4 separate regions of the Homo sapiens genome follow, and regions 1, 2 and 4 are each linked to region 3. Evidence: fine-mapped expression QTL. A gene starts in region 3. Each other region holds a variant in brackets. All regions are shown on one strand. Distances are between the middles of the regions.

What was found.
Region 1: its variant is fine-mapped to the expression of LINC01094 in whole blood (TOPMed, PIP above 0.99).
Region 2: its variant is fine-mapped to the expression of LINC01094 in whole blood (TOPMed, PIP above 0.99).
Region 4: its variant is fine-mapped to the expression of LINC01094 in whole blood (TOPMed, PIP 0.93).

The regions. Positions count from the first base shown.
Region 1 is chr4:78,905,349-78,913,458 of GRCh38, forward strand. BMP2K (BMP2 inducible kinase) reads left to right here. Exons shown (of 16, transcript NM_198892.2): 16 at 5,262-8,110. The coding sequence ends at 6,685. PAQR3 (progestin and adipoQ receptor family member 3) reads right to left here. Exons shown (of 6, transcript NM_001040202.2): 6 at 6,530-8,110. Among named protein-coding and RNA genes, the nearest start is that of PAQR3, 30 kb to the right of the region's middle. The variant G/C (reference allele first, on the strand shown) is at 3,300.
Region 2 is chr4:78,604,269-78,612,378 of GRCh38, forward strand. It overlaps ANXA3 (annexin A3), which reads left to right. Exons shown (of 13, transcript NM_005139.3): 12 at 9-131; 13 at 5,788-6,179. The coding sequence ends at 5,847. Among named protein-coding and RNA genes, the nearest start is that of LINC01094, 38 kb to the right of the region's middle. The variant G/T (reference allele first, on the strand shown) is at 4,858.
Region 3 is chr4:78,642,092-78,650,201 of GRCh38, forward strand. LINC01094 (long intergenic non-protein coding RNA 1094) reads left to right here and starts at 3,903. Exons shown (of 3, transcript NR_038308.1): 1 at 3,903-4,172. It also overlaps the pseudogene HIGD1AP13. RefSeq lists an enhancer at 3,540-4,739.
Region 4 is chr4:78,711,844-78,719,953 of GRCh38, forward strand. LOC101928893 (a long non-coding RNA gene) reads left to right here and starts at 4,238. Exons shown (of 3, transcript NR_188357.1): 1 at 4,238-4,292. RefSeq lists enhancers at 2,974-3,920, 6,671-7,242, 7,243-7,813. The variant A/G (reference allele first, on the strand shown) is at 3,180.

The DNA of each region.
Region 1 (8,110 bases), 260 kb after region 3:
CTTGACTAGAAACCATCAAAATATCATTCTACCATATTTAGTTAAAGAAAAAGAAGAAATACATTACTTAGAGCCAAAAATAAAAACAGTGGGTGAATATATGAAATTTCACAGTATACTAAAATAATGTAAATGAGTTATGATTCTGTGCACCATCTACACAGTTTTTAATGCTGTAAATACATGTTGTTAGTGCTTATTCTAAATATTATACCCCCATCTCCCACCTACTTGAAGAACAGCTATTTTTATGTTAATAATACAGATCTCAGTAAATATGGGGATTATTAGGATTTAGGGTATATTGAATTATAAAGCAACATATTTAGGCTTATACTTTTGGGAAATTAACTTTAGCAGTGAAATAATCCTGATTAAATTTCATAGTAAATCAAATGTGTATTATTTAATCTAACAACTAGTGGGAATCTGGCCCCAGACACAAATAGTGGGAAGATCTGAAATTTTTTTTTTTAAATTATAGGAATATGTTTAGGCAAAGAAATGGAGTATGAAGGTTTATGGCATTCTTAGCTAGAGGTCACATTCTAAAGTGCTGTGCATTGTATAGTTATAACCAACTTTATAACTTAAAATACTTATTCTGACAGTCTTTTATGTCTATGGAATAGGACTGAAAGCCTTAGAATATACTGAAATACTTTTTATTTTTGTGTAATTCACCTTTCTTTCCCAGCTCTTCTGTAGTTTCATGATGAATAGATGATTAAGTAGATCACTGCTACTGCAGAAACTTACCTTGGATTGTGGTAACTTGCAGCCTGGAACCTAACTTTTCCTCAGCAGGAGGTACTGGAGAGATAAAAGGATTAATAGTTTGTCTTAGTATGCTTTCAGAGAGCCTCATTACTGCTCTTTACTTTTTATAAGTTTATAACAGCAGTAAAAGTGTAGAGTGAAATATTTAAACAATGTCAGTGTGGGTTGCAAGAATATGGGAGAAAACAGGAATTTGGATAAATATTTTTGATTGTTATTTTAGTTTTATGTAGGGGGGCAAAATAAGTAAAACCAGTCTATCTACACCAACAGAAAATTTCCCCAGTTGCCCGTACTATTTGCAGATGTAACCTGAAAGCACAAAGGTGGTATAGATGATTGTGTCTTTTCTTGCTCTTTTTGAAAGTGTGTTTCCATTTCTTATACTGTGTTCTCAAATATAGCTGTCTAAAAATCAAAAATAGAATTTCCAGGATCTAAAATGTACCCTTATGCTGTGTGGATATACATTTGTTGGTCTACTTACTTCTGGTCAGTTCTGAAGTGGATCTCAGCTCCTCTTGAATTAGCCATAGACTTGCTTCTCCCTACACTTCTCCCTCATTTATATTCACCTGCAACCACTGGGCCCAGAAAAGTTACTAGAAGCTTATTGGGTATGATGGATAAAATAATTGAATTTGGCCATTCCCAGGACATGATGATGGTAGAGTGCTTATTATGTGTTCAGGCACCGTTCTAAGTCCTTTCTTCACAATAGCTCTATGATATAAAATGTGTTATCCCATTTTGTGTATAAAGAAAGTGGAATAGTGGTGACCTTGTCAGGATTATTATTGGGTTAGCTTTAGTAGCTGTGTTAATTACCCATGAGGAGGGAATCATAGTATATAAATAAAGTGAAATTGATACTAAAAAAGGAGGGTTTCCTTTTTACTCCTTGAAGGAAAAAGTGCATGAATCATGGTTGTATCTAAAATGCCGAAAAACTAGAAACAACCTAAATATTCTATTGCTAAATAGTGAACAGTTATATATGGAATATTTTATCATATTTCTATCAGAATAAATAATAGACTGTTGATACCTGAAAAGATGCATTAAAAATAGTAAGTTAAAAACCCACAGATTTATACCCACACTGACAATTATAAATGTGTATTTCTATTAATACAACTTTGATAAATGGACAAAGGGCCAACAGAATGAGAAGTATAAAGTGACAGATGTCTTCTGAAAAGTAATGGTAGCCAGTTGAATAATGAAAACAGTAAATTTTAAGAAGACTAGGGAGTACAATGTAATAATTTTAAAAAGAAGGCGAATTTAAATTCACTTCCAAGTGACACTCTCCAAGATGAATTATCTGTCCTACGTTAAATGTTCCAGAAGACCTTCAGGAACACAACTAGAAATGGAAAATTTCAAGATAAGTTGTATAGCAGCATTTCCCCAAAGTACTTTTGCATAGTTGGTTTTAAAGGTTAACAGGCATTACATGTAAATAAAAGGGTAGTGAAGACAATTTGGGAAATCCTAGGGTTCATAAAATTAGATTCTTTTGTGTAGGACTCATTAGCACCTTTAATGAGCATACTCCAGGTGAGTAGGAGTGGAGGCAGAATGCAGAGTGCACCATTTCATAGACTTGTTTGCTTGAGACCACAGAACTGTTTGTCTTGGTTCTTGTTAGGGAAATAGCCTCTGCAGAATACACTTTGGGCAACATTGGAATGTTACTTGGAGGTGTCCGTGAGCAGGCGTGAGGTGTGAATGTTGTGGCTGTGGGTGGGTATGCAGCTCGAGGAGTAATACGTTAAACGTTTCACAGTCAGGGATGATGGGAAATCTTCTGGAACCGTACATATTTTATTTTCATTTTTCCCTTCTTCCCATATTTTGCTTTTGAATAAAAATTCATAAAAATAAATTCACTAAAATTAACTTTGTTTTTAATATCATAAATACGCTGTGTAGGGAAGAAGTCAAACTTGAGAATCTGCATTTGATTTGCTTTTAATCTGGAAGGATAACAAATACAGCATGTAGCTCTTGGCTGGTTTTAAGGAACTGACAGAAGATTATATTTGCAATTAAGTATAACCTGGTGGTATTCTTCACATACTTGTCTCCCACACATTCTTTAGCACCACTACTCATGTCAACATTGCCAACAAACTATACAAGATGACCAGATCCAGTGGCCATTTTATGTCCTTAGTTTACTGGACCTCTTTGCACCATCCAGCTCAGTTGTCTGTTACCTCCCTCAAACATTCTTCTCTCTCCATTTCTGTGACATTGCACTCAGCTGTTTTCTTCCTCCTCTCTGGCTGTTACTTTGTAGTTTGTTTTGTATGTTCATCTTCCTCTGCTGACTTCTGAATGTTTTATACTGAGGGCTCAGTTTTGGATCTTCTTTTCTTCTATGTTTTCTTCCGAGGTATGCCCTTTAGTCTTGTGGCTCTCTCTGCATACCAACTGCATGGTGATAACTCCCAAATCTATTTTCTTCAGCCAAAAACTAACCATTGGTTTCAAATCACAGATACCTAACT[G/C]CTGTACACTTAAATGTTGTCTCACACATATGTCAAGCTTAATGTCTCCAAACAAAATTTTTAGTACTCCTCTTCACTTTCCAACTTACTCATTTTTTAAAAAATTATGCTCATTAAAATTTGTGTGTGGGTACATAGTAGGTATATACATTTATGGGGTACATGAGATATGTTGATACAGGTATACAGTGCATAATAATCACATCAGGGTAAATGGGTTTCTATCACGCCACTCATTCTTTTCTTTCTGTTAATGGTGCTGCCATCCACCAAGAGTTTTCAATCTCTATTTTTTCTACTTTGACCCACCCTGCCACCACTGTCATGTCATCTAGGCCACCAAAATCTCTAACTTGCATTACTATAATTTCCTTTTGCCTGAACTCCCCTTCTTACCTTCCCTTAGTCTTTTTTTTTTTTTTTTTTTTTTTTGAGACAGTTCGCTCTTTGGCCCAGACTGGAGTGCAGTGGTGCGATCTTGGCTCACTGCAACCTCTGTCTTCCAGTTTCAAGCGATTCTCCTGGCTCAGCTGGCACCTGCCAACATGCCTGGCTAATTTTTCTATTTTTAGTAGAGATGGGGTTTCACCATGTTGGCCAGGCTGGTCTCAAACTCCTGACCTCGTGATCCACCCGCCTTGGCCTCCCAAAGTGCTGGGATTACAGGGGTGAGCCACCGCACCCAGCCCCCTTAGTGTTTTTCTATAGAGCAGTCATTTTTTTTTATGTAAACCTAATCATGACACCTATTTTAATAATAGCTTTCCATTATACATGGAATTTTGAATTAGATGTATAATGAAATATACGCTGCTTATCATGGCCTTAGAGGACCTTCACAGTCTGGCCTTTTCCAGTCTTCCTTACCTCATGTTGTACCTGATCCTCCCTTGCTCACTATATTCCAGCCACAATAGCCTATTTTCAGCCCCTTAAATATGTCTTTATATATGCCATTGCTTTTATTGGAAGCTGCTTCCAGCTTATCCTTTGCATGGCTGGGCTCCTTCTCATTGTTCAATCCTAACTGTCGTCTCCTTAGGGAGGTCTTCACCACTGTCCAAAGTAGGTTTATGCGCCCATTTCCCTGCTGTCCTTTATTTCAGAGCACTAGTCACAATTTATGTTTACTTACAACCTCTGACTGTAAACCCCTGAAAGCAGAAACCATGTTTCTTTTACTCACCAATGTATAATCAGTGTATAGCAAAGTGCCCTATATTTCTTTCGTTGAATGAACTCAGAAAATGAAGTGACTGAATGGATTCTGAGCTAAAAACATCTCCAGATGGTTTAGATTTGTTTTTAAAGGAATCTCGCTTTTTTAATGTAATGTATAGATATTATAATTAAAGGAAGTCATATCATCTAGAGAAGGCAGATGTTTTTGGTACAGTCTCCATTTAGTATCTGGTCCTTAGCTTTGGTGAGGCCATTCATGCTAAGTCAATTCAAAAGATAGTGGTTTATAAAAAATACAATGCTGATTTAAAAAAATAGTGAAACAAATACGTAACTGAGCAGGCAGGCTGTTCATGCTTGTTGATCTCTATGGGAAAACTTTACAAGAGTTGAAATATAAGCAGGAGGTATTTGGTGAATGTGAAATCTGAGCTTTCAGAATTAGCAGAATAATGTTATTTTGGTGGTGGGGTGAAGAAAATTTGCTAGTCTACTACATTCTGTGTGCTATAAATAAAATTTGGCTGTCAGTGAGAGTACGATGAGGCAGGGTGTAGGGTCCAGATATGAATAAGTCTGTCTACATTAAGACTTAACTATCTACCTGAGGTCAAATGCATTCTCTAAGTCTAATGACGAAGAATTGACAACATTATTTTTTCCTCTAAGGGAACTCGTATGAGGGATTTGTAATGCCATGTGTAATACATATTAACATTTAGTGCAAGAGGATTCTGAAATGCATTGGAATGCTGTAATAATATTTATTTGAACTTGCAGGTTCTCCTGAAAAGAAAGCTGAACATTCATCTATAAATCAAGAAAATGGCACTGCAAACCCTATCAAGAACGGTAAAACAAGTCCAGCATCTAAAGATCAGCGGACTGGAAAGAAAACCTCAGTACAGGGTCAAGTGCAAAAGGGGAATGATGAATCTGAAAGTGATTTTGAATCAGATCCCCCTTCTCCTAAGAGCAGTGAAGAGGAAGAGCAAGATGATGAAGAAGTTCTTCAGGGGGAACAAGGAGATTTTAATGATGATGATACTGAACCAGAAAATCTGGGTCATAGGCCTCTCCTCATGGATTCTGAAGATGAGGAAGAAGAGGAGAAACATAGCTCTGATTCTGATTATGAGCAGGCTAAAGCAAAGTACAGTGACATGAGCTCTGTCTACAGAGACAGATCTGGCAGTGGACCAACCCAAGATCTTAATACAATACTCCTCACCTCAGCCCAATTATCCTCTGATGTTGCAGTGGAGACTCCCAAACAGGAGTTTGATGTATTTGGCGCTGTCCCCTTCTTTGCAGTGCGTGCTCAACAGCCCCAGCAAGAAAAGAATGAAAAGAACCTCCCTCAACACAGGTTTCCTGCTGCAGGACTGGAGCAGGAGGAATTTGATGTATTCACAAAGGCGCCTTTTAGCAAGAAGGTGAATGTACAAGAATGCCATGCAGTGGGGCCTGAGGCACATACTATCCCTGGTTATCCCAAAAGTGTAGATGTATTTGGCTCCACTCCATTTCAGCCCTTCCTCACATCAACAAGTAAAAGTGAAAGCAATGAGGACCTTTTTGGGCTTGTGCCCTTTGATGAAATAACGGGGAGCCAGCAGCAAAAAGTCAAACAGCGCAGCTTACAGAAACTGTCCTCTCGCCAAAGGCGCACAAAGCAGGATATGTCCAAAAGTAATGGGAAGCGGCATCATGGCACGCCAACTAGCACAAAGAAGACTTTGAAGCCTACCTATCGCACTCCAGAGAGGGCTCGCAGGCACAAAAAAGTGGGCCGCCGAGACTCTCAAAGTAGCAATGAATTTTTAACCATCTCAGACTCCAAGGAGAACATTAGTGTTGCACTGACTGATGGGAAAGATAGGGGGAATGTCTTACAACCTGAGGAGAGCCTGTTGGACCCCTTCGGTGCCAAGCCCTTCCATTCTCCAGACCTGTCATGGCACCCTCCACATCAGGGCCTGAGCGACATCCGTGCTGATCACAATACTGTCCTGCCAGGGCGGCCAAGACAAAATTCACTACATGGGTCATTCCATAGTGCAGATGTATTGAAAATGGATGATTTTGGTGCCGTGCCCTTTACAGAACTTGTGGTGCAAAGCATCACTCCACATCAGTCCCAACAGTCCCAACCAGTCGAATTAGACCCATTTGGTGCTGCTCCATTTCCTTCTAAACAGTAGATACTTCTGATGGATTCTCGGCATTAACTCCTGTTTCAAAAAAGTGTGAACAGTTTTATGAATTTGAAAGAAAATTTGGTAGCTCTTTATAGCATTCATTCTTAAAGATCAGTCAGAATAGGTGATTTCTAAATAAACCAAATAGAAGAATGAAGTATCTCTACAGGGTAGTAACTTGATTCCTCTTCAGGAGAAAAGGGAGCTAAATTGCAAGCTCTAACTAAGGGTTTCTGCTACTGACATCACAACACAGAAATGCAAGTGTGGTACTTCCAGTGAAAGCACATGGCACCTTTCTAGGTGTGTAGCCACTGAGAAGGGACAGTGAAACTGTTATTTTTGATATCAGAATGTCATTTTTATGTGCATATCCCTAAAATTAGGGTTATTTCTACATACACTAGTTACACTTGTGAATTTTTTTTAAGGTCTCTTTTAATTTCCAGACAGTTAAAAACAATCTAGTTATCTTAAAGCATTAGAAAGTTATTATCTGGAGAGTGCAGAGATTTCAGTCCATACACCTTTCTCCACAAAGCAGAGCCAGAAGTAACTGACTATTGTGCCTAAAACTCTGTTTCATTTTTAAAAACAAGTGCCATTAAAATGGAATATCTAATGATAAGCATATGAAATAATGTGTAATTAGCTCAATTTAACTATTCCACAACTTACATATTCCAAAACAATGTTATACATGATAAATATATATAATTTTTGTCAGTTAAAACAAATTAAAAAAATGGACTATCGTCGCACAGAAGCCTAGAACAAAAATATGAAGAGAAATATCTGACATTTGTAAAGAAATTATAAGAAGAAAAAAAGATACAGAACAGAAAACATTCACTACTTTAGAAACACTTTATGCATGGCTTCTTGCCCCAAACTTTTATTGTGATGGCCCTAATAAAGCAGATTATTGGAAAAATTGGAGGACAAGGGTTGTATAAAAATTTTATTTTATGAAGAAAATATGTAGCGGAAACTGAATTTTCAAGACATTTACAATGTGAAATCATGTTGCATTTAACAATGTACTTTATTAGCAACTTCACCAAATATTCCCCAAGTCATAAGCAACAATTATTTTTATTAGGTTTTGGGGGGTGGAGTAGTTTTAATAAAGTGCACAGAATGGTGACACCCACAAAGCCTTATATAAAGGCAGGATTCATGCATCCTGCTGCAAGTACCTCTGCACTAATATACCAGATCCTAAAATGCATATAAGGTGGACTAGCATCTTAATTCTGCTAGTTGATTGTGTCTTTACTGAAAAGAACCCAGCTACCAATTTGCCTTTTTTTACACCACAAATCCTAATTAGAAACTTGAGGTTTTATAGAAATCATTTAATGATAGAGATTACATATGTGAATTAATGTGAATATAGTATCTGTGCTTCCTGTGTCTATGACTATT
Region 2 (8,110 bases), 38 kb before region 3:
CTTAACAGGGTATTGGAACTGATGAGTTTACTCTGAACCGAATAATGGTGTCCAGATCAGAAATTGACCTTTTGGACATTCGAACAGAGTTCAAGAAGCATTATGGCTATTCCCTATATTCAGCAATTAAAGTAAGTCTACTTTTAAAAATAGCAAAACATATTTTGCCCTTCTCTACCCATCTCCTTACTCTTATATGCCTTAAAATATAAAGATATTTGACTTAGATTTCTCTCTCCTTGTCAATGTATAAATGTGTTGTCTGAGCTTAAAATAGTAGCAGCAAAATATCCCTTATTTTCAGCTCTAAAATCCCAGGCATATAATAGACACTCAATATTTTTTTAGGTGTACTAGCCACTAATTTTTCTTCTTTTGTGAATTACATATGCAAGTTGTTTACCTGTTTTTTATATTGCACTGTTTTTATTTATTTCAGTCTTTATGACAATGTAAGAAAAGAAAAATACGTATTTTAAATTTCCTCTCTGTTTTACATGAGACAGCATGGTTCTGCAGCTTAGAGTGCTTTTCATTTCAGTATATAGGAAACTTTCTCATTTTATTTAACAGCTGTATATCATTCCATTGTTTGTATATTTGTACCCACCACAACAAACAGAGGCTTCCAGTTTATTGCTATTGCAAACAATGTTGTATAATGCATACACAACTTCATCAGGTACGAGTGTATCTTTGGGATGAATTCTCAGAAGTAGGATTTCTGAGACAGATATAAATGCATTTTAAATTTTGACAAATATTACTAATTGAATTCCATTTTGCAATTCCATGAGGAATGTATGAGAACTTCTTTCTCCATAGCTTTGGCACAGAGGGTATTTTCAAACTTTTAGGTTTTTAAAACATTTTTTAGAGATGGGGTCTTGCTGTGTTGCCCAGGCTGAAGTGCTGTGGCTGTTCACAGGTGCGATCATAATACATTGTAGCCTAGAACTCCTGGGCTCGAGCAGTCCTCTTGCCTTAGCCTCCAAGTAGCTGGGACTATAGGTAAACTTTTGGGTTTTCATAATCTGATAGGTGAGGAATTGTATCTCAGTGTAGTTGTAATATACATTTTTCTTAGTATAAGTAAGGCTGAATATATTTTCATGTTTGAAATAACATTTGTATTTCTCTTTCTGTGATCTGTCTTTTTACATTCTTTGTCCACATTCTTTTGGGTTTTTGTTCTTTTTGGTCAGTTTCTAAGACGTTTTTCACATAAGGTAGATTAGCCTTTTGTCTGGTCATATTTTCCCAGTCCGTTCTTTGTCCTTTGACTTGGCCAAAAGTATTTTTTTCCAAGCAGAGGTTGCACATCTTATTTAATTAAATTTATCAATCTTTCACAGTATTTTAGTTTTTAAAAAATCTGGTCCCTTCTGTTTCTTTCATTCTGGATGAGAATCTTCCTAAAATGGGCTCCTTCCTTTCTCTTTTAAAGCATGAAACCCATTTTCATTGTTTTCAGATCTCAGTTGATATATTATACATAGAAACTTCAAATAAATTACAAATTATTTGAATTAATAGGGCAGTAAGCCTGACAAAAATTGTACAAGAGGCTTCTGTACCTTAAGCTCGTGGTTCAAAAGTCATAGTCCCAACAGGAAGATGGCAACTAGTTAGTGGAGAACTAAGGGGCTAGCCCCACACCTGCTCAGTAGCCTTCCATTGATTTACTTTTCTACCTTGATGCTCCAGACCACATATGAAAGTCTCTAGTAAATGAGTGATAGAGAGTGTTAGTCCAAGCTGGTTCCCTGGAACAAAGTGGAAGCTGGGGTTGGTGAGTGGAGCAATCCACTGTCCTTGCCTCCAAGGCCACACTGACCAGGGGAAAAGACAGAGTCAGGGCTGCCTTCGCAGAGGACTTGCAGGCTATGCAGACCTCTCCGTCTCTTTGCTACTCCATCTACCCTTGAATGTCTCGAGGAAATCAGCACTAGAGAGTATTGGACCCAGGTGAACTCTCCAAGGTCTAAGCTGAGACTTGGGGCCTAGAAGGTGATCCAGGATGAAGAGGGAAGCAGCAGCCAAGCAGAGTGTTTGCTCTGAGTGCTGAGGGTCTAAAACTGGGAATGGAGTCCATGCTGATTAGACCCCCTAAGCTGTGGATCATTATGCACCATGCACATCCTGATCCTGGGTAGCAGCACCCTCTCTCAAGCCCCTACAAGGCTGGAGCACTACCTCTGTGGGGGAGCTTACACTCAGCGATGTCCCCTGGGGACACCTGGCTTAGACCACATTCCAGTGTCCCTGCCAGCAGCTGGAGTCTTTGGTCCAACCTTCGCTATGGCCCTACCCACAATAGCCACCCTTGAACAGGCACAAATATTAGCCTGGGTCTTTCTGCAGCTATCTTGGGAAGGTTTCTGCCTCTGACTTTACAAATGGCCTTTGAATGAATGAATGAATGAATGAACATCAATCAGTCAACTAGATTCATTCACTAAAATCTCTCTCTCTCTCTTTTTAATCAGAGTTTTTGTTTTTGCACTAAACTTTTACAGAAAGAGATGCTGAGATGCATGCATAAGTTGAAATCAGGAACTTACTCAAAAAGGCAATTCTCAGACTGTGCCTGGGACTTAGCACAAATTGCATCAACTGCTCACACTCAATTCTATTTGAATCAGTCCTGACACATCACAATAGTTTCAATCATCAGAGGAAGATTCAATAACATTAACCATGTTGTAGCTACTAAGGCAGAAAAATAGACTCACACATTTTCTAAAGATTGTCAGTAACAAGGTTGAGACATAAAGAGGGCTTTCAGTTCACCCTCAGCAAACCAGAAAATTAAATTAACCAGTGGCTCTCCGTTCCCCAGTGGTCTGGGTAATTGAGGCTTATTGTATTAGAAAACATTTAAACTATTTGTAGTTTGATAGAAAAGAAAAATCCATCACTGAAAACTTCAGTTTGCAGTTTGAAATAGTACAAGATTTCTTTATTTCTACCACCTAACACATATTATTAAGTAATCTCATTACATTTTTGCTATTGAAGAACAGGATCTTTTTAGATGGTTGTTTCTGAAATTCATGGGATAGAGTTCCATTTTGCATATCATCTCAGCCTGTCATCCTGCCTGTTTTCTTCCTTCCACCTATTGTTTAGACATTTCTTTGTCCATTGACACCTTTCTCAGGGGGTAACCGGTGGGAAGGAGAAGGCAAGGAAGAACAGAGGTGAAAAACCAATGTGTACCTCTTACTACTTTATAAGAAGATATTATGGAAAATTTAGATGAAATTATATTTTTTGGTAGTTTTCCTTCATAGACAAATTCTGTATTTATTTAATAAATAGCACAATTCCAAGCTTTTTATGGGAAAATATAGTAGCCACTCACAATCAACTCATAATCTATGTGGAGACTTGAGGTAGGTATGAAGAAACAATTAGAAGATAATAATTGAAACAACAGACAATTAAATACTAGATTGTTGAATATAGAGCTAGTACTATCGGAATTGAGAAGAAAAGAAGTTTGGGGTTAGAGAAATGGGTCTTGAGCCTGCCTTTCAGGTCAACAAGCATGTGTTGAGTGTCTCCTGTGGGCCAGGTGCTCTGCTGGAGCATTTACCTTTAAGACCCCAGATCAATAGGGTCTTAAAAGTAAATGCTCTAGAGACAGATATGGGAAGAAGCAAGAGGGAAAGAAGTAATAAGGCATTTGTTTGATTAGAGGGTCTACCTTGGGGAATATTGAGAAATAAAATCCAAGTAGCAAGATGAGTTCAGTTGAAAGAGAGCTTTGAGATCAGCGAATTCACTCATTCAATTAAAAATATTATCAAATGCATATTATGTGCTAGGCTCAGGGTTACAATTATAAGCAAAGGGGGTAGGGTGGGGGAAGACATTTTCTGCCCTTATGGAATTACAACTATGTTAAATGTAAAGGAAAGTGACATTGTGCTAAAAGATCCTACAATAGTAGGACTTGACTTAGAGGAAAGGCTTCTATGAGAAAGTCATGATTCAGATCTGGAAAATAAGTAGATATTAATAAGGCAAAATGTATGGAGGTAAGGGAGCCAGTAGAACATTCTAATAAAAGAAATGACAAATGGAAAGGCCTCATGGTGGAGGAAGCATAATGAAAAATGAGGATGTGGGGGCCAGATCATGCAGGACCTTTTTGGCAATGTTTAAGGAATTTTGGCTTTAGCTTAAGAGTAAGGGGAAGCCATTGAAGAGTTCTGGGCATGAGCTCTTGAAGAGTTAGTATCAGGATCATGAAAAGATCCCTGTAAGATCTTCTTATTCTGGAGAATAAGAAGGGCTCAAAAGATATTTAGGAGTTGAAACTTAAGGGACTTGGTATAATATCTTGGTGTGAGGAAAGGAAGATAGCAAGGATGACACTCAAGTTCCTAACTTGGAAAACAGACAGTGGCGCCATTCCTTGCAAGAGGATCAGGTTTTAGGTTGTTTGTTTGTTTGTTTGTTTCCTTTTCTTTTGGGGGAGTGGGGGGAGGTTTATGAGTTTGGTTTTACATGTATTGAGTTTGAGATGTCTTTGAGCCATGTAAGACATGTGGAGAGGTCAAGTAAGTCATTAGCGGTGTAAATATACTTTGAGTTACTTGGATGTATTTTCTTGACTAACTGGTAGAACGCCTAATTGTTTACAACTCTGATCAGAGATGTCTAGAAGGAGCTCTTTTAATACAAAGCTGGAGCATTGTTGACTTGTCAGCTCTGCTATTGCAGAGCAAGACAGGAAAACCAATAGCATAAGAACTAAAATCTATATAAAAACGAAGAATATTGTCATATATTTTGTGAAACAGACAAATGAACAAGAAATAAAGAAAACAGAAAAATATATATAAA[G/T]GCCTATTGTGTCTTACTATGAAAGTAATGCTTAACTTCTTCACTAAATGAGCCTTCTCTGAGACTTCCTTTATATTACCACTTTCTCTAATATTCACCCCAGTAACAGCCATTCCAAATGTGAAACTTAAGTGATAAGAAGAGCTCACTGGTTGGGTTACCTCAAATAAAATAAAAATAATGTGAGCATCTTACACAATCCAGGTTGAAAGCCAAGTTTTACCTCCTGTGAAGTCTTTTGCGTTACAAACTTGGTATCTTTGCCCTTTAAGCCTCAACCTCACGTAGTATCTTTTCTGGACAACAGTCTATTTTTGGTTGGCCTTGGGAAAAGGAACTGATAAACATATTCTTTAAAAATGTGGTTCATTTCACTTTCCTAAGTTAGGCAGTGTAGCAGGGTATTAAGGAGCCAGGATATAGGGATTCAAATCCTGCTTTTGTCACTTATTCTCGATAAGATTTGAGGCAAGTTTCCTAACCTGTCTTTCTCATTTTACTTATCTGTTAAATGGGGGATACGTATAGTACCTATTGCAGAGAGCTTTTAAAAGGGTTAAAGTAGTTAATACACATTAAGCCTTTTGAATAGCAAGTGTTCGATAAATATTATTAAAACTAAAATTTGAAGTTTTTATAGAAATCAATATTATGTAAGTGATGCAATCTTATTTTATTAAACCAAAATTGAAATTTAACTGCAGTATATCAGGAAGAATCTAAATATTACTTACAGTGAAGAAGATGCTGGTCAGAACGTAATTACACTCAGGTATGAATGAATGATGGAATTGCAGGTATGTTTTACTAAATGGTATAGCTCATGAGTCTCACACCCAGGTGAATTCCCTAGTGCTATAGGATTTGATTCATTTATGGTCTCCCATTATTTATACTGTATTTGTTCTTCATTGATTTTATTCTTTGCAGTCGGATACTTCTGGAGACTATGAAATCACACTCTTAAAAATCTGTGGTGGAGATGACTGAACCAAGAAGATAATCTCCAAAGGTCCACGATGGGCTTTCCCAACAGCTCCACCTTACTTCTTCTCATACTATTTAAGAGAACAAGCAAATATAAACAGCAACTTGTGTTCCTAACAGGAATTTTCATTGTTCTATAACAACAACAACAAAAGCGATTATTATTTTAGAGCATCTCATTTATAATGTAGCAGCTCATAAATGAAATTGAAAATGGTATTAAAGATCTGCAACTACTATCCAACTTATATTTCTGCTTTCAAAGTTAAGAATCTTTATAGTTCTACTCCATTAAATATAAAGCAAGATAATAAAAATTGTTGCTTTTGTTAAAAGTAATTTCTTTGTTTGCTTTCAGAGCTTGCCAACATTGTTTGATGCCTGGTGCCAACAACTAATATTTTAAAACATGTTTCTGTATAGAAGCTGTTACTGCTTCAGTTTATCACCTTGTTAATCACACTTTTTTGAAAGAAAGGAATAAGATGAAGATGTATGTGACCCTGGCCTACCCTTTGTAGTTGTGATCAAGCTATAGGAGTGGTAATGCATGATAAGTTATTTCAGCTTTCAGAAAACATCTGCTGAAGGATTAATCTAACCACTTCCTGTCTGAATGGCAAGCATGAATTATGGTTGCTTCATGCTAAATACTACTTTCCCAGAATGGGCATTTAGAATCAAGCCTCTAAGGTTTCCTTTTCTCTTGAGTTGGCAAAACTATGCATTTAAAGAATCCATCATGCCATCTTTGAGTGGGACCTAATATGAAATACCTTGACTGATATGAAATAGATAAAGTGAAAAAAATTCCAGTTAGAGTTATTTTCCTGGACCAGAATAGAAATGATCGTACTGGCCATGTGCAGTGGCTCACGCCTGTAATCTCAGCACTTTGGGAGGTTAGCAGGCGGACTGCTTGAGCCCAGGAGTTTGAGACCAGCCTGGGCAACCTAGTGAGACCCTGTCTCTGCCAAAAATACAAAAATTAGCCTGGCATGGTGGCACATGCCTGTGGTCCAAGCTACTTGGGAGGCTGAGGTGGGAGGATTGCTTGAGTCAGGAAGCTCATTTGGCAAGTTAGTTCTGTAATCAATACTATAAATGTCAGTCATAACTAAGATGATGGCAGGAGATAATGAAAACAACTACTTAAATATTTGGGAGATAAAATTGAGTAAACATGGTATTCAAAGTTACCAAGTGTCAGTCAAGTATGCCTTCACGATTTTAGTGTAAGTGATTTAGTGAGTAAGTATATCACGAAGCAATAAATCAATGTTAATACTCATAGAGTGCTTACTATGTATTAGGTACTATGTTAAACAGTGTAGTATATTTTAATTTGTTAATCCTCAAGGCATCTTACAATGTAGATACCAACACAGATATAGAAATGGAAATGGAAGCTTAGAGAAATTAAGTAACTTGTCACTGTAAGAGCCAGGTAGTCCAACTCCAGTGTCCAGGCTCTTAACCACTGTTTTGCCTTAGAATTTATCCCATCCCAGGGCCACTGTAGTTTTCAATGCCTAGTGCTTAGATTAGAACAGTGCTCAGCACATAAAAGGCATTTAATACAGTGAATCTTTATTTTAGATCTCATTCATCCTCAGAGTTGTTATACCACTTATGTATTAAGTACTTTCTGAAACAAAGCATGGTTACATGTGTCAATATTTCCCCTGTTTTGCAAGTGAGGAAAATGAGACTCAGGTTAGGTATCCAGCCCAGGGTTACACAGTGGCAAAGCCAAGGCTTAAGATCCGGGTCATCTGGACTTTAAAACTTATCTGTGGCTGGGCAAAGTGGCTCACACCTCTAATCCCAGCATGTTGGGAGGCTGAGACAGAAGGATCACTTGAGCCCAGGGGTTTGAGACCAGTCCAGGAAACATCAGGAGACTCTGTCTCTACGAAAAATTTAAAAATTAGCTGGGTGTGGTAGTGTGCACCTATAGTCTCAGCTACTCAAGAGACTGAAGTGGGATGATCAGTTGAGCCCAGGAGTTTGAGGCTGCAGTAAGCTATGATCACACCACCGTACTGCAGCCTGGGTGACAGAGCAAGACCCCGTCTCAAAAACAAAACAAAACAAAAAAACCTTACCTGTGCATGAGTGAGTTTGAAGAAGGTGAGAACTTGAACACAGTAGTGATCACACAAGAGAATTCTGCAGAAAAAAAAAAAGCCCCAATGAGGTAACCCTCTAACCCTTCTACTCACATCTGTTTTGCCTTGTATGCATTGGACTTCAGGCAATTACC
Region 3 (8,110 bases):
GTTCATGCTCCTGTGAGAATCTAATGCCACTGCTGATCTGATGGGAGGCAGAGCTCAGGCGGTAATGCTCACTCGCTTGCTGCTCACCTCCTGCTGTGTGGCCCGGTTCCTAACAGGCCACAGACCAGTAACAGTCCACTGCCCAGGGTCCTAGGGACCCCACCTCTAATAGGAAGAAATTCAGAAAAGGGGATGGGAGGTGACATTTTACAGAAAAGGAAGCTGAGTCTCAGAAAGTGTTTGTCTTGGCCAAAAATAAGCAGCAAAATGTGAAAATGAAATTTCACTCTCTAATCATTTCCTCCAAGCCTTGTCCTCTTTCTGTCCCCACCCGGCACCCTTCGTGAGCTGGCAATAAAAATCTCCCTCCTAGGTTTTCATGCTTATAGGAGAAGTCATTTGCTCAGAGAATCCCTGAGATGCATGGGGACAGGACTAGCCTTCTCCCCTTCTCCACTTTACTCCATCTGGCCTTGCAGTGAGCCCTCTCTATGAGTAAAATTGTTGACGAGACCATTCACTCAATTATAGCATTTTATGTGATATTATTTCATGAAATAAAATGTTCAGCTCTTGATTACCAGCCTCCCAGTTTTCCACCAAGGATGTGATGTGTTCTCAATGTACATTTAAGTTCTGTGAAGATTTTCCATTCATACATTCATCCAATAAATGTCAAGACATAAAGAATGCCAAGTCCCAGGAAGAGAAAGAAGAGTCCCATAGAATAAGGGGTTTAATTTCATGAAATGATTTGCATCAAATTCACTGGCCTCTCCTTGACTTCCAAACTCATTATCTTTCTAACCCAAGGCTCAAGGTAAGCCTGCATTCTTGTGACTCTTTCTGACAGTCAATCGTAACAAATCATGCTACCTCGGCTAACTGTCTTCACTTGATGTTCTACCCAGAAAAGCACAGTTGCTTTTCCTTCTGACCACAGCAGCCCTAGCCACACCCTGCATTGTCCAAGGGCATAGAGCCAAATTGCTGCTGTCACTGCTGCCACCTTTTGCTCCCTGACACCATCTAACAGAGCCTTGTGTCCCTACTATACTCCATGTCTTCCATCTCTAGGCTCCTCTTTTGCCACTGAGGAGCCCAGTAGGTGCCCACATTAGACACACTTCCTCACTGGCCAGACAGCAGGTGGGCAGAACCACAAACTCACTTAAGCTGCTGTCTTGAGATGCAGCTTTCTCAGGGACAGCTGGAGAGACAAAGTACACAGTCTCTAAGTGCAGTGGTCATGTCTTGTTCATCTTTACATCTTAGCACCTAGAATAGTCTTTAGCACTGGGTAGGAGCTCTGCAAATATTTGTGGAAAGAAGGAAGAGAAGGAAACCAGAATACTGAGGTGATTTGCCTAAGACACCTAGTTTAGCAGAGAACTAGATACGAATCCTGGCTCCCAAAGTCCTGTATCCATGCTCATTCCACTCTACCACTCTAGGCTTACATTGGCCTCCTGAAAGAAGGAAAAATGAGATAAATAACAAGGGAAGGGAGAGAGGATACAGAAGAGAACACCCAGTAAGGAAAATTTGGGGTTGTATTTGCAGGTGGCATAGCCACAAGGCCAGAGCTGATGTTTTCCTGGGCCCGAGGTGGTCTACTCCAAGGCAGATACATTGTAGTTATGGATAAATGGTGCTATTGATCAAATTCTCACATCTGGAAAAGGTCTAGCAAAATTGTTAATTCCAGGCATAGTGAAAGTAGCTCAAAAATATGTATTTTCAAAATGTAAATATGGACAATTACCATTATCCCACCTCCAATCTCCAAGCTTTTCTTTATTTCATTAATCATTTAAAAAATAAATATAATCTTTTCCTACCTAACCCAGCAAGATAAATGTGTCCTAAGAATTTGCTATTATTATTGCTGTTACTTAAAACATCTTTAGTGAACCAAGCATAGCAGGTATTAATTAATCTGATTTAATTAGAATGAGTCAAATTATATTCAGAAACCCCAGTGAAAATTTTAATAAGAAATTTCTTTTCAGAATATGACTTTGATGCAATTTTACTTTTTTCATGAGGTATGGACTGAGGAAGAGGAAGGAAGAGAAAGTAGGTAAAAGGAAATTTTTTTTTGCATTGCCATACTGTTAACCAAGACTAAAGACCAGAAGCAGAGAAATGGAATAATTAAAAAGTGATGACAATGTAATATTTAGGCATGCTGTCACACAGAGTCCAACAAAATGGTTTTAGAAATTATCTTTAATTCTTTTACTTACTGGGGAAAAAAATAATCCAGAAAACTATAAAGAGATAAATATTTCCTATTATCCTGTTGTTTGAAAATAACTACAGTTAGTATTTTAGTATATAGCCTATTCTACTGTTGCAAAATAGGTGCATTTCTAAGAAATCTCAACTTATCAAAAGAATGTAAAGAAACAGGTAACACTGGTTGAAATTGGAGAAGGATGGCTGGGGAATAGGGATGGAACAAAAATTTCTCATTTAGAAATACTAGCATGTGCCTTTTAGATTTTGTCCTTTAAAAGTGTATCTCCTATTAAAATTAAGCCAAATTGCAATTTAAAACTAACTTTTTTAAAAAAAAATGTTTTAATGGGAACAGAAATGTTAAAACTCACAGTAGAACAGAATTTTAAAAATAGTAATTTTAACAATAAATTTGTTTTCATAACCATAAATGTATTTGGTTATTGCTAGCTTTAATTTTAAAAAGGTAGATCAAAACCTACAAAAGGAAACACAAACTTCCTTACACTTTCCGCCACGTATTCAGCACCGTCTAATGCCTCATCACTGTTGCCATGCAGGTCTGCCTGCAGTACAGTCCATTACAGCCAGGGGAAGCAGCAGCTTTTTATCATTTCCCAGTTCCCAGTCAGTTCTGGTTATTACTAACAGTGATTCATTAAATTATGTTCAATAAGCAGCTAATTGTGCTATGTCCAATTTTTGTTAGGGACACTTTAACTGTAGGAGAAATTAATGCCTGTATAATTTTCCAAATGCTTTCCCCAGGCGTGTATACATATACTTTATATAGAAGTTATCTTTTTAAATTTGTTTTTACCAAAAAAAGAATCATAATAAACATACTACTTTAGAAGGTTTTTTTCACCCAACAAAGCATTTTGAAATTCTTCTCATTTTAACTTACCAAATTTCACCTTATCTACAATAAAAGTTTAATCCCTTATGAATGAGATTTATCTTTCAAAAAAGAAATGAATTTGCTTTTCTCCTTTCATACTGCCAGTATTTTCAGTATCTTTATGATGTTACTATACGAACATAAAAAATCAGTGTGATTCCATTACCATTTAAAGCCAGACACTAAGACCAATGGAGGCTGATATTCCTGTAGGCCATAGCAACCCTGGGAAATCTTGCCTTTGCTGAAGCTATACCAAATCCAGAAGTAATTGAAGTCCCCCTAAGGTTTCAGGTCCCCCCAAAGAAGGCAGGAGTTGTGCATTACTCAGCATTCTCAGATCTATTCTAAAGCAGATTATTTTCTTAGATTTTGATTCAATTCCATGCAATTCAAGCATTTTTATTTAATAAGTACAAGGCATTGTGCTCAAGGAGAAGTGTACAAGCTAAACTGGATCATTCTAATTTTCCTGAACACTTACAACCTCGTAGGAAGACATACATACATAAGTAAGTATGATACAAGGAAAATTTGTAAGACAAAGTAAATAAAAGTATTATAAGAAACACAGAAGAGGGATAGATTACTTTAGGCTGAGTGAGGTGGCTTTTGAGTTCCTACTAGAAGGGTGTGTAGGATTGTGACTAGAAGAGAGAGGAAGGTCTGGATGGAGCAACAAGAGTCTGGGCTATTAACACAGGTTTGAGTCAGGCTGACCGGAGCTGTAAAGCCCTTCTCGTTCTCACTGTGTGTTCTTTTCAGTTCTGTCTTCCTGAGGCTGCTGTTTCTGGGCATGGCCAGGGGATCTTCAGACTTTACAAACCAGTTGTGCAGAGCCAGGCATTTCAATAAGGAACAAAATGCTGAGTAACAACATGAAGTCAGAGTGTTGCTTGCCAAGAGCTGGGAGGCCTGGGTGGTTTCCCAATCTTAAAGAAGCAGAAGGATATTAAAGTGAGCCTCCCAAAGGAAAACGTGGATCTACTTACCAACGCAGAAAATGATACACACGGATTCGATTTAGGTAAGTGCACCCCCTGTGATGACTATTGGTCACTTCCAGATCACATGGACTAACTGTAGGTCTCAACTATTTTGACTTTTTTTTTCCAGAACAGACTAATACATAACTAACGGCTTACCTTTGTGAAAAATATTTTATGCACTGTAGAACAGATAATTTTCAGTCCTGGGCCAAAGGGGGAAACTTTGGAGAGAATTAAACAGGAAATGACTCTGCTACAAAGAATTCAGGAGCATGAGTGAAGTGAATAAACAATCCAGGCACGATTGATGAATTCTAGATGTCCTGGGAATAACAGGGCTTGTTGCCAGCTCAGATGGGTGAAATCCTACTCTGATGAAAGGCTCCAGGGCTGCAAGGAGACCACTCCTACATCCATCACATCAGTGTCACAGGTTTACCACCTGCTCAGCGATTATTCAACATCCTAAGGCCTTTTGCCCCATTACACACGTTTGACCACTTAGTCCAGGAATGAGGTACCAAATACTAGGGAGATCTCATAAAGCCTGCAGCTAAAATAAGCAGAGGAATCAGAAGCTGGACAGAGTGACCCAAGGAGGACTGGGGATAACTCAGGAGTTCCTTTTTTTTTTCTTTTTGAGATGGAGTCTCGCTCTGTCGCCCAGGCTGGAGTGCAGTGGCGCGATCTCGGCTCACTGCAGCCTCCGCCTATTGGGTTCAAGCAGTTCTCCCGCCTCAGCCTCTCAAGTAGCTGGGACTACAGGCACCCACCACTACGCCTGGCTAATTTTTGTATTTTTAGTAGAGACGGGGTTTCACCATATTGGCCAGGCTGGTCTCAAACTCCTGACCTCATGATCCGCCCGCCTCGGCCTCCCAAGGAGTTCCTTATTTTAATATTTGCTGAAAATTCTCCACCATAATTTAAACATGTAATGATAAGAAAAATATCTGCTTCTGACTGAATATTTAGAAAACACAGAGCTATATAACATAGAAAAAAACCCAAGTCGACCACTGACAAATAATTATTAGGACTATTTCTTTTCATTCTGTGTTCTCTGCACATATGAAAGTAAAAAATTGGAATCATATTGTATATACAGTTTTATATTAATTTTTTTACATAGTCACTTTAATAACAATACATATGCTATGTTATCACTATAGAATGTAAATTCAGGTTAGACAAGAAAATTTCACAAGTGTAATAAAGCATTCTAATTAGCTGGGCGTGGTGGTGTGCACCTGTAGTCCCAGCTACTCTGGAGGCTGATGTGGTAAGATTGCTTGAGTCTGGGAAGTTAAGGCTTCAGCGAGCTGTGATCATGCCACTGCACTCTAGAGCCTGGGTGACAGAGCAAGACCCCATCTAAAAATATATATATATAAATTAAGCATTTTGCCTTTTATCAAAGTTTGTGTATAGTATCTGGCCAAACCCGCTTGCTCATTAGTCACTTTCATTATAGGTAATTTGTTTAGTTTCTTGTTTATGATTCTTCTGGAGAAAATTTGAAAAGTGTTCTTCACTTACCTTAGCATGAGTGCTTAAAATAGGATGACATTTAAAAATTATTCTAATATAACAGCAGCTAAAATATAATTCTGCACTTATAAAAGAGCTAAACTGGAGTTCATAATTAAGTTATTCTCATGTTTACAATTATGATTCTGAAATAAATACTGTTACTATGAAGCTCTATTGTAAGCTTTCTTGATTCGGTTTAGACACACATACATACACTTAAGAGTTGTGAGAGGCGTTACAAGTTGTTAATGTATTCCATGCACGTTTCAGAAAAGTTCTAATAGAGACAGCCAGTTCACAAGACAGGAAGAAGAAAAGTTAGATTAACCAGGGCAGATAAGACTCCTATATAACATACAAAGCATGTGAAATTCTTCAGCAAACTGGGAATACTTCAGGGATCGCCAGCTATCTTCTTTAGAACTAATTTCTTCTTTCTTTTCTTTTCTTTTCTTTTCCTTTCTTTTCTTTTCTGTTTCTTTTCTTTTTTCTTCTTTCTTTCTCCCTTCCTTCCTTCCTTCCTTCCTTCCTTCCTTCCTTCCTCCCTCCCTCCCTCCCTCTCTCTCTCTCTTTCTTTCTTTCTTTCTTTCTTCCCTTCTTTCATCTTTCTTTTCTGTCTCCCTCTATCACCCAGGCTGGAGTACAGTAACTGCAACCTCCGCCTCCCAGGTTCCGGTGATTCTCATGGCTCAGTCTCCCAAGGAGCTGGGATTACAGGCATGTGTCACCACCCTCAGCTAATTGTGTGTGTGTGTGTGTGTGTGTGTGTGTGTGTGTGTGTGTGTGTGTATGTATTTTTGGTAGAGACAGGGTTTTGCTATGTTGGCCAGGCTGGTCTCAAACTCCTGGCCTCTAGTGATCCACCCGCCTTGGCCTCTCAAAGTGCTGGGATTACAGGAATGAGCCACCACACCCGGTCCTAATTTAATCTTTACAGTCTAAGAAGGTGGTTTTAAAGTTTTAACATCATCAAGTGGAATTAGGTGACATGTTTCCTTTGTGTTAACTTGACTTCCCTGAATGACCTAGTTAGTGAACTAGTCACTAGTAATTTGGTCACCAGGCAAATCAAGCATGCAAGAAAGGAAGCCAGTATTCAAAATACCGTGTTATCGTCTGAACCCACTCAAATAATTTATTTCCAACATAAACATGTAACCTCAATAATGAGATGTCTAACTAAAGTAAGGTCCTCTTACAAGATCAAGACAGCATCCTCCTTCCAAGGCTTAGGCTTTGCCCAGAATTCCTAATACACAGAACAGCCCATACCAACAGTCATTGCTTCTACAACACATGTGGATCAGGAGAAGGGACCTTTTAGCATTTCCTCTGCTCTTCCATTTGTATAATCCTTATGGAACAATTGCTGGAAAGCCTGCCATTCCAGTGAGAACAAATGGTGGCTCTTCAACTTTTCGAACAAGTTTGGATCCTTGATCTTTATCATAGGAAGAAAGGGAAACATCTGTGTCTGTTGACATAGTGATTGAAGAATCTTCCTAGAGTGAGAAAATCTCTCACAATCCAACTGACCTCTATATTAATTTTTTATCTAACATATTATAGTCATTTGCCATGTTATTAAGCATTGTTGTAAACATTGCTTTTAATGCTTATATAATATTTTATCTTACAGGTGTATGACAATTTATTTAAAAGTTCCCCTTCTTGGGATGCTTAGAGTGTTTCCACATTTTTAAATTATAAATAACACTTATGGACATCTGTACATATAAATCTTTTACCACAAATAAAATTGTTTCCCTAGGATTCACGTAAAAAAACATGGAGCAAGGTTTGAAGCTGTTGAACTCTATGGTTCCTTCTTCTTCTTTCCAGGCACGCTACATTCAAATGACTTGGAAGAGCAGGTTCTCTGAGCCAGGATACTAAAGTCCCTGTTTAGGAAAGAGCCACGTTGTATGTTTACCCTACCACAAAGATACAGGTGAGAAAAACTGAAGCCTGGGATGGTGGACCAAAGAGAGACACTGACAGAATGAGCCCTAGACTTCCAGAGTCTGGGAAACTTAGGCCAGATAAAGACTAGTAGTCTGGCAGTTATTACTGGGAATCACTCTTACTCTACAGCTAGGCGTGTGCCATTCCTCCTGTCCCTTAACTAGAAACTCCCTATGGATAACCTGGCTTCTCATTCCACTGGGAAAATTGAAGCATGCAGTAGAGACCTTCCACAAGCTCCCTCCACCACCTCTTACCCACTTGCCTGTCTCTATGCACATAAATATCTGTCTTCTTTTCTTTCAATACCATGTATAGGTTGACAACACTCACATTTTCATATCTCCAGCCCAGATTTCTCCCGTGTGTCTTGACTTGATATCTAATTTCCTACATGACATCTCTCTTTGGATGACTAATAATCATCTCAAATGTGTATGTCCAATACCAGACTGCTGATCTGCCTCCAAACCTGTTT
Region 4 (8,110 bases), 70 kb after region 3:
AAATCAGCAAACATATTCTATTAAAGGATAAAATTTATAGAAGGCCATTGGTTTGGGTTGAGCTTTTGTACTAGGCCCAACAGACCAAACCAAAATGTAGTCACTCATGCTGAAGTTCCATGCCACCAAGATGAAACCAACATGTTTATCTGAGAAATCCGGAGGCAGAAAGAGATAACAGCCAATTTTCCAAATAGGCCAGTTTTAGCTGCATGATAAAGAAGTCCCCTCGACTTTAACATTTACAAGGAAAGTAACGTTGAAATGACGATTCCACTTTTCGCTCTGTTTCTGCTTTTTTCAGCCCCTTTCTGTCTATAAAGCTAAGCTCCTCTGCTCAGCTCATTGGAGCACTTATTCTATTTTACAGAATGAGGTTTTATGTGGTTCTAGAATCACAAATAAAACAAATTAGATCTTTAAACTGAATTTGTTGTCATTCTGTTTTTTGACAGGCCAGATAGTAAATAATTTAGGCTTTACAGGCCACATAGTCTCTGTTATACCTATTCAAATCTGCCTTCATAGAAGGAAAGTAGAAAGCAGCCATATCTTTTACATATTTTACATAGAAATGGTGTAGCTGAGATCCAACACAATGTTATTAATAAGATTTGGTGAGTCAGATTTGGCCTATGGGAAGCAGTAGTTTGCCCACCTTGGTTCTAGATAATTTCATTTAGTCTAATTGAAAGTTTATAATGCAGTTTAGCTCCAAGATTTTTGGCTCATGGTAGCAATTCCTCCCCAAAATCACGTTTAATAGCTTCAGTTTAAATAAACATAAATCTGAAACAAACTAGGATTTTAAAAAATTAGTAAAATCTAGATTGTGGTATATTCTACAAGATAACTGCCCTAGATGGTTTTTGGGATTTTTGGTTGTTTGATTTGGAGTCAAGATCTCACTCCATCACCCAGGCTAGAGTGCAGTGGCATGATCACAGCTCACTGCAGCCTTGACCTCCCAGACTCAAATAATCCTCCCACCTCAGCCTCCCAAGTAGCTGGTACTACAGGCACATGCCACCACACATGGCTAATTTTTGTATTTTTCATAGAGATGGAGTTTTGCCATGTTGTCCAGGCTGGTCTTGAACTCCTGAGCTCAAGCAATTCACCCATCTCGGCCTCCCAAAATGCTGGGATTACAGGTGTGAGCCACCACACCCAGCATGCTCCTAGATGTTTAAAAGAAAATGTGATGAGGAATGAGGTGGAAAAGCAGGGAGAATGTTCTAATCTAAATCAAAAGGAATTTAAGAGACTGTACAAGCAAATATAATGCATGAAGCTGTTTGGATCTTGGATCAAAAACAAAAATAAAAAGTTGAAAAAAATCTATGGGACAATTGAGGTGTTTGAATATGATCTATTTGGATATAATATTGTTGGGATTAGAAAGCAATACTCCCAAATGAAGACCTCAGAAGCAGCCTCAGAAGGAAAAGCATTTCTCTGACCTTTTCCTGCTCTCCTGTCCTCAGTCCCATTCTTCCTTGAGGTTAGTTACAGAAATGAGAATCCCTCTTCCCCAAAGAAGGTCATAGAAACCAGAACCCCTTTTCCTCAAAGCCAGCCATAAAACCTAAAATGTTACTTAACCCTCCCCTCAAACTTTCTTTGTAAAAACTGGTCCTTAAGAAACTATGTGACCAACTTTGTTTGACTGTAGGTCATAAGACCTCTATTCCAGAGGGGGTCTGGCCCTATACTCAGAAGGAAGGAATGTATTCTCAAAGAGGTCAAGAATATGAACAGACAGGCCTTACTGGGTTTTCCCACTCAGTCTATTAGCATCGGATTTTCTCTTTTTGTCCAATCATGTTGAACATAAGCATTAAAATGGACAGTTTCCCCTATATCTTTGGGTCTTCATTCTGAAGGCTCCTGTGTCACCTAAAACCATGATCAAATAAATTCGTATGCCCTTTCTTTTATTAATCTACCTCTTGTCAGTGATTATCAGCAAAACTTCAGAAGGCAAAGGGGAAGTTTTCATGTGCGTCCGTGTGAAGAGACCGCCAAACAGGCTTTGTGTGAGCAACATGGCTGTTTATTTCACCTGGGGGCAGGTGGGCTGAGTCCAAAAAGAGAGTCAGTGAAGGGAGATAAGGGTGGGGCCGTTTTATAGGATTTGGGTAGGTAAAGGAAAATTACAGTCAAAGGGGGTTTGTTCTCTGGCGGGCAGGAGTGGGGGGTCACAAGGTGCTCAGTGGGGGTGATTTTTGAGCCAAGATGAGCCAGGAAAAGGACTTTCACAAGGTAATGTCATCACTTAAGGCAAGGACCGGCCATTTTCACTTCTTTCGTGGTGGAATGTCATCAGTTAAGGTGGGGCAGGGCATATTCACTTCTTTTGTGATTCTTCAGTTACTTCAGGCCATCTGGGCATATACGTGCAAGTCACAGGGGAAGCGATGGCTTGGCTTGGGCTCAGAGGCCTGACATTCCTGCCTTCTTATATTAATAAGAAAAATAAAACAAAATAGTGTCGAAGTGTTGGGGCAGCGAAAATTTTTGGGGGGTGGTATGGAGAGAGAATGGGCGATGTTTCTCAGGGCTGCTTCAAGCGGGATTAGGGGCGGCGTGGGAACCTAGAGTGGGAGAGATTAAGCTGAAGGGAGGTCTTGTGGTAAGGGGTGATATTGTGGGGATGTTAGAAGAAACATTTGTCATATAGAATGATTGATGATGGCCTGGATACGGTTTTGTATGAATTGAAAAACTAAATGGAATAACAAAAGGAGAAAAACAGGTATAAAAGGTCTAAGAATTGGGATGACTCAGGATATCTGATTAGAGACTGCCTAAGGAGATTCAGCATAGTCCTGCCAGCAAAGATTATTTATTTACTTCAAGAGTTAAGAGTGGCAGTTTGGGGATAGCACCAGGAGATATCAGCTGTGATGGCTTGGAAAAACAGTGTAAACCGGCAGTGTAAACAAGAGCAGGGCATGTTTGAGTAGTTGAGAACGGTGAATAGGAGTATGACTAGACAGAAGGTAGTAGGGATGACAAGTTTTTTGGGGCACAGTCTAAGTTGGTCTGGTGTCTGGAATGAGACTGGGACCTAATAAAAAGGAGCGTCTATACAGGAGCTTAAATGGGCTGTATCCTGTAGCATTCCGAGGATAAGCCTGAATTCTGAGAAGGGAAAGTGGTAAAAGTATTGTCCA[A/G]TCCTTTTTAAGTTGGTGGCTGAGCTTGGTGAGGTGTGTTTTTAAAAGACCTTTAGTCCATTCTACTTTTCTTGAAGATGGAGGACCATAAGGGATATAAAGGTTTCACTGAATACTAAGAGCCTGAAAAACTGCTTGGCTGATTTGACTAATAAAGGCTCATCTGTTATCAGACTGTATTGAGGTGGGAAGGCTAAACTGAGGAATTATGTCTGACAGAACAGAAGAAATGACTGTGGTGGCCTTCTCAGACCCTGTAGGAAAGGCCTTTACTTATTCAGTGAAAGTGTCTATTTAGACTACAAGGTATTTTAGTTTCCTGACTTGGGCATGTTGAGTAAAGCTAATTTGCCAGTCCTGGGTGGGGGCAAATCCTTGAGCTTGATGTGTAGGGAAGGGAGAGGGCCTGAAGAATCCCTAAGGAGTAGTAGAATAGCAGATGGAACACTGAGAAATTATTTCCTTGAGGATAGATTTCCACGATGGAAAGGAAATGAGAGGTTCTAAGAGGCGGGCTAGTGGCTTGTGCTATAGCATAGCCTGCCTTTGCTGGTGTGTGGCGATTAGGCCTGGTGGAACTGCCATCAATAAATCAAGCGTGATCAGGGTGAGGAACAGGAAAGAAGGAAATATGGGGAAATGGGGTGAATGTCAGGTGGATCAGAGAGATACAGCCATGGGGGTCAGGTGTGGTATCAGAAATAATGTGGGAGGCCGGATTGAAGTCCGTGCCAGGAACAATGGTAATTGTGGGAGACTTAACAAAGAGTGAGTACAGCTGAAGGAGCCGGGAAGCAGAAAGTATATGTGTCAGGTATGAGGAAGAAAATAGATTTTGGAAGTTATGAGAACTGTAGAGAGTGAGTTGAGCATAGTTTGTGATTTTGAGGGCCTCTAAACGTATTACAGCAGTGGCAGCTGCTGCACGCAGACATGAGGGCTAGGCTAAAACAGTAAGGTCAAGTTTGGACAGAAAGGCTACAGGGTGTGGTCCTGGCTCTTGTGTAAGAATTCTGACCGCGCTAACCATGCCTAGGAAGGAAAGGAGTTGTTGTTTTGTAGAAGGTGCTGGGGTTTGAGGGGTCAGTCGGACACGATTGGCAGGGAGAGCACGTGAGTTTTTATGAGAATTATGCCGAGATAGGTAACAGATGAGGAAGAAATTTGGGCTTGATTGAAGTAATGGGGGCTGTCTGTGAAGCTTTGCGGCAGTACAGCCTAGGTAATTTGCTGAGCTTGATGGGTGTCAGGGTCAGTCCAAGTGAAAGCGAAGAGAGGCTGGGATTAAGGGTGCAAAGGAATAGTAAAGAAAGCATGTTTGAGATCTAGAACAGAATAATGGGTTGTAGAGGCAGGTATTGAGGATAGGAGAGTATATGGGTTTGGCACCGTGGGGTGGATAGGCAAAACAATTTGGTTGATAAGGCGCAGATCCTGAACTAACTTGTAAGGCTTCTCTGGTTTTAGGACAGGTAAAATGGGGGAATTGTAGGGAGAGTTTATAGGCTTTAAAAGGCCATGCTGTAGCAGGCGAGTGATAACAGGCTTTAATCTTTTTAAAGTGTGCTGCGGGATGGGATATTGGCGTTGAGTGGGGTAAGGGTGATTAGGTTTTAATGAGATGGTAAGGGGTGCATGATCGGTCACCAAGGAGGGAGTAGAGGTATCTTATACTTGTGGGTTAAGATGGGGAGATACAAGAGGAGGACACAAAGGAGGCTTTGGATTGGGAAGAAGGGCATCAATGAGATATAGCTGTAGTCCAGGAATAGTCAGGGAAGCAGATAATTTAGTTAAAGTGTCTCAGCCTAATAAGGGAACCCGGCAGGTGGGGATAACTAAAAAGGAGTGCTTAAAAGAGTATTGTCTAAGTTGGCACCAGATGGGGAGTTTTAAGAGGTTTAGAAGCCTGGCTGTCAATACCCACAACAGTTATGGAGGCAAGGGAAACAGGCCCTTGAAAAGAAGGTAATGTGGAGTGGGTAGCCTCCATATTGATTAAGAAGGGGATGGGCTTACCTTCCACTGTGAGAGTTACTGGGAGCTTGGCGTCCGTGATGGTCTAGGGGGCTTCCGAGGTGATCAGGCAGTGTCAGTCTTCAGCCGCTAAGCCGAGAAGATCTGGGAAGGAGTCAGTCAGAGAGCCTTGGGCCAGAGTTCCAGGGGCTCTGGGAGTGGCTGCCAGGTGAGTTGAACAGTCCGATTTTCAGTGGGGTCCCACACAGATGGGATGCGGCTTAATAGGAATCCCAGGCTGCAGGCATTCCTTGGCCTAGTGGCCAGATTTCCGGCACGTGTAGCAAGCTCCTGTGGGAGGAGGTTCTGGAGGAACGCCTGGTCGCTGCAGTTCAGGTGTTTGGAAGTTCTTGTGTGCTGGAGATGTGGCTGGGGTTTGTCTCACAGTGGAGGCAAGGAATTGCAACTTTTTTCTATTATTGTACACCTTGAAGGCGAGGTTAATTAAATCCTGTTGTGGGGTTTGAGGGCGGGAATTTAATTTTTGGAGTTTTATTTAATGTTGGGAGCAGATTGGGTAATAAAATGTATTTTGAGAATAAGACGGCCTTTTGACTTTTTAGGGTCTAGGGCTGTAAAGTGTCTCAGGGTTGCTGCCAAACAAGTCATGAACTGGGCTGGATTTTTATATTTGATGAAAAAGAGCCTAAACGCTTCTGATTTGGGATGAAGAAAAAGGAGCATTAACCTTGACTATGCCTTTATCTCCAGCCACCTTTTTAAGAGTAAATTGCTGGGCAGGAGGGGGAGGGCTAGTCATGGAACGAAACTGTAAGCCAGACCAGGTGTGAGGAGGGGAGATGATAAAAAGATTATAGGGTGGAGGAGCAGAGGCTGAGGAAGAATTGGGACCTAGCTCGGCCTGGCGAGGAGCAGCCTGGGGAGGAAGGGAGAGGTCAGATGGGTCTGTAGAAAGGGAAGATTAGAAAGACTCAGCGACGCTTGGGGTTGGTACTGAGGGGACAGGCGGGAGGGACAGAAGGAAGATTTGGGAAGAGTTGCACTGGGCACAGAGACTAGGAAGGGACTGATGTGTAAAAGAATGCCTGGACGTCAGGCACCTCAGACCGTTTGCCTATTTTACGGCAAGAATTATTTAGATCTTGCAGGATGGAAAAATTCAAAGTGCCATTTTCTGGCTATTTGGAACTACTGTCGAGTTTGTATTGGGGTCAAGCGGCATTGCAGAAGAAAATAAGGCATTTAGGTTTTAGGTCAGGTGTGAGTTGAAGAGGTTTTAAGTTTTTGAGAACACAGGCCAAGGGAGTAGAAGGAGGAATGGAGGGTGGAAGGTTGATGATAATGAAGGAAGCAAGCCTAGAGAAAAGAGAGAGTAGAGAAATGGAGGGAAGGGGTTCGGGGGTTCTTACCTTCCAGAAAAGTGGGAAAAGGGGTTGGGGCACAGAGATAGGAGGTCAGGGCATGGAAATAAGGGATGGGGTGCAGAAATAAGGGGTTGGGGCACAGAAATAAGGGATCAGGGCATGGAAATAAGGGATCGGGGCATGGAAATAAGGGATTGGGGTGCAGAGATAAGAGGTCGGGGCACAGAAATAAGGGATTGGGGCACAGAGATATAAGAGGTTGGGGCACGGAAATAAGGGATTGGGGTGCAGAGATATGAGGTTGGGGTACTTGCCCCTCTTCTAGAAAAGCGGGACTTGCCGCTAAGAATGAAGGAGAAGGGGTTGAGGGGTACTTGCCCCTCCCCCAGAAAAGCAGAGAAGGGGTAGACACAAGGAGAGAAGGGGTTGGGGTACTTGCCCCTTCCCCAGGAAAGCAGGACTTGCTGCTAAGGGTGAAGGACCAAGGCAGGCGTCCCTGCGTGGTCTGGCACCTTTGAAACATGGGTGAATAATGACAGAGGCGTCCCTGCAATGATTAAACACCAAGGGAAGGCTGCCTTCCCAGTCCGTGACCGGCGCCGGAGTTTTGGGTCCACAGATAAAATGTGTCTCCTTTGTCTCTCCCAGAAAATGAAAGGAATTGAAATTAAGAGAGGGGAGAGATTGAAGAGTGGAAAGGAGAAAGTGGTTGAGGGACAGTGAGAGAGGTTGGAGAAGAGAGTAAGAAGAGGCTGCTTACCTGATTTAAAATTGATGAGATGTTCCTTGGGCTGGTCAGTCTGAGGACCTGAGGTTGTAGGTGGATCTTTCTCATGGAGCAAAGAACAGGAGGACAGGGGATTGATCTCCCAAGGGAGGTCCCCCGATCTGAGTCACGGCACCAAATTTCATGCACATCTGTGTGAAGAGACCACCAAACAGGCTTTGTGTGAGCAACATGGCTGTTTATTTCACCTGGGTGCAGGTGGGCTGAGTCTGAAAAGAGAGTCAGTGAAGGGAGATAAGGGTGGGGCCGTTTTATAGGATTTGGGTAGGTAAAGGAAAATTACAGTCAAAGGGGGTTTGTTCTCTGGCGGGCAGGAGTGGGGGTCACAAGGTGCTCAGTGAGGGTGCTTTCTGAGCCAGGATGAGCCAGGAAAAGGACTTCACAAGGTAATGTCATCACTTAAGGCAAGGACCGGCCATTTGCACTTCTTTCATGGTGGAATGTCATCAGTTAAGGTGGGGCAGGGCATATTCACTTCTTTTGTGATTCTTCAGTTACTTCAGGCCATCTGGGCGTATATGTGCAAGTCACAGGGGATGTGATGGCTTGGCTTGGGCTCAGAGGCCTGACAGAAGTTTTCCCTTGGCCCTTGACAATATATTATATGATATTAAATCAATGTTATATTACTTAGAAGTGATGATGATATTATAGTTATGCGGAGAATGACTTTGTTCTTACTGCTTGTATTAAGGTATTAAGGGATGAAATGCTGTGAAAATGGTTCAATTAAAAACAACAGATGATAAATTATCCGTGAAAAAAAAAAAAACAACCCAGATACCAGTCAAATTGAAATAGAG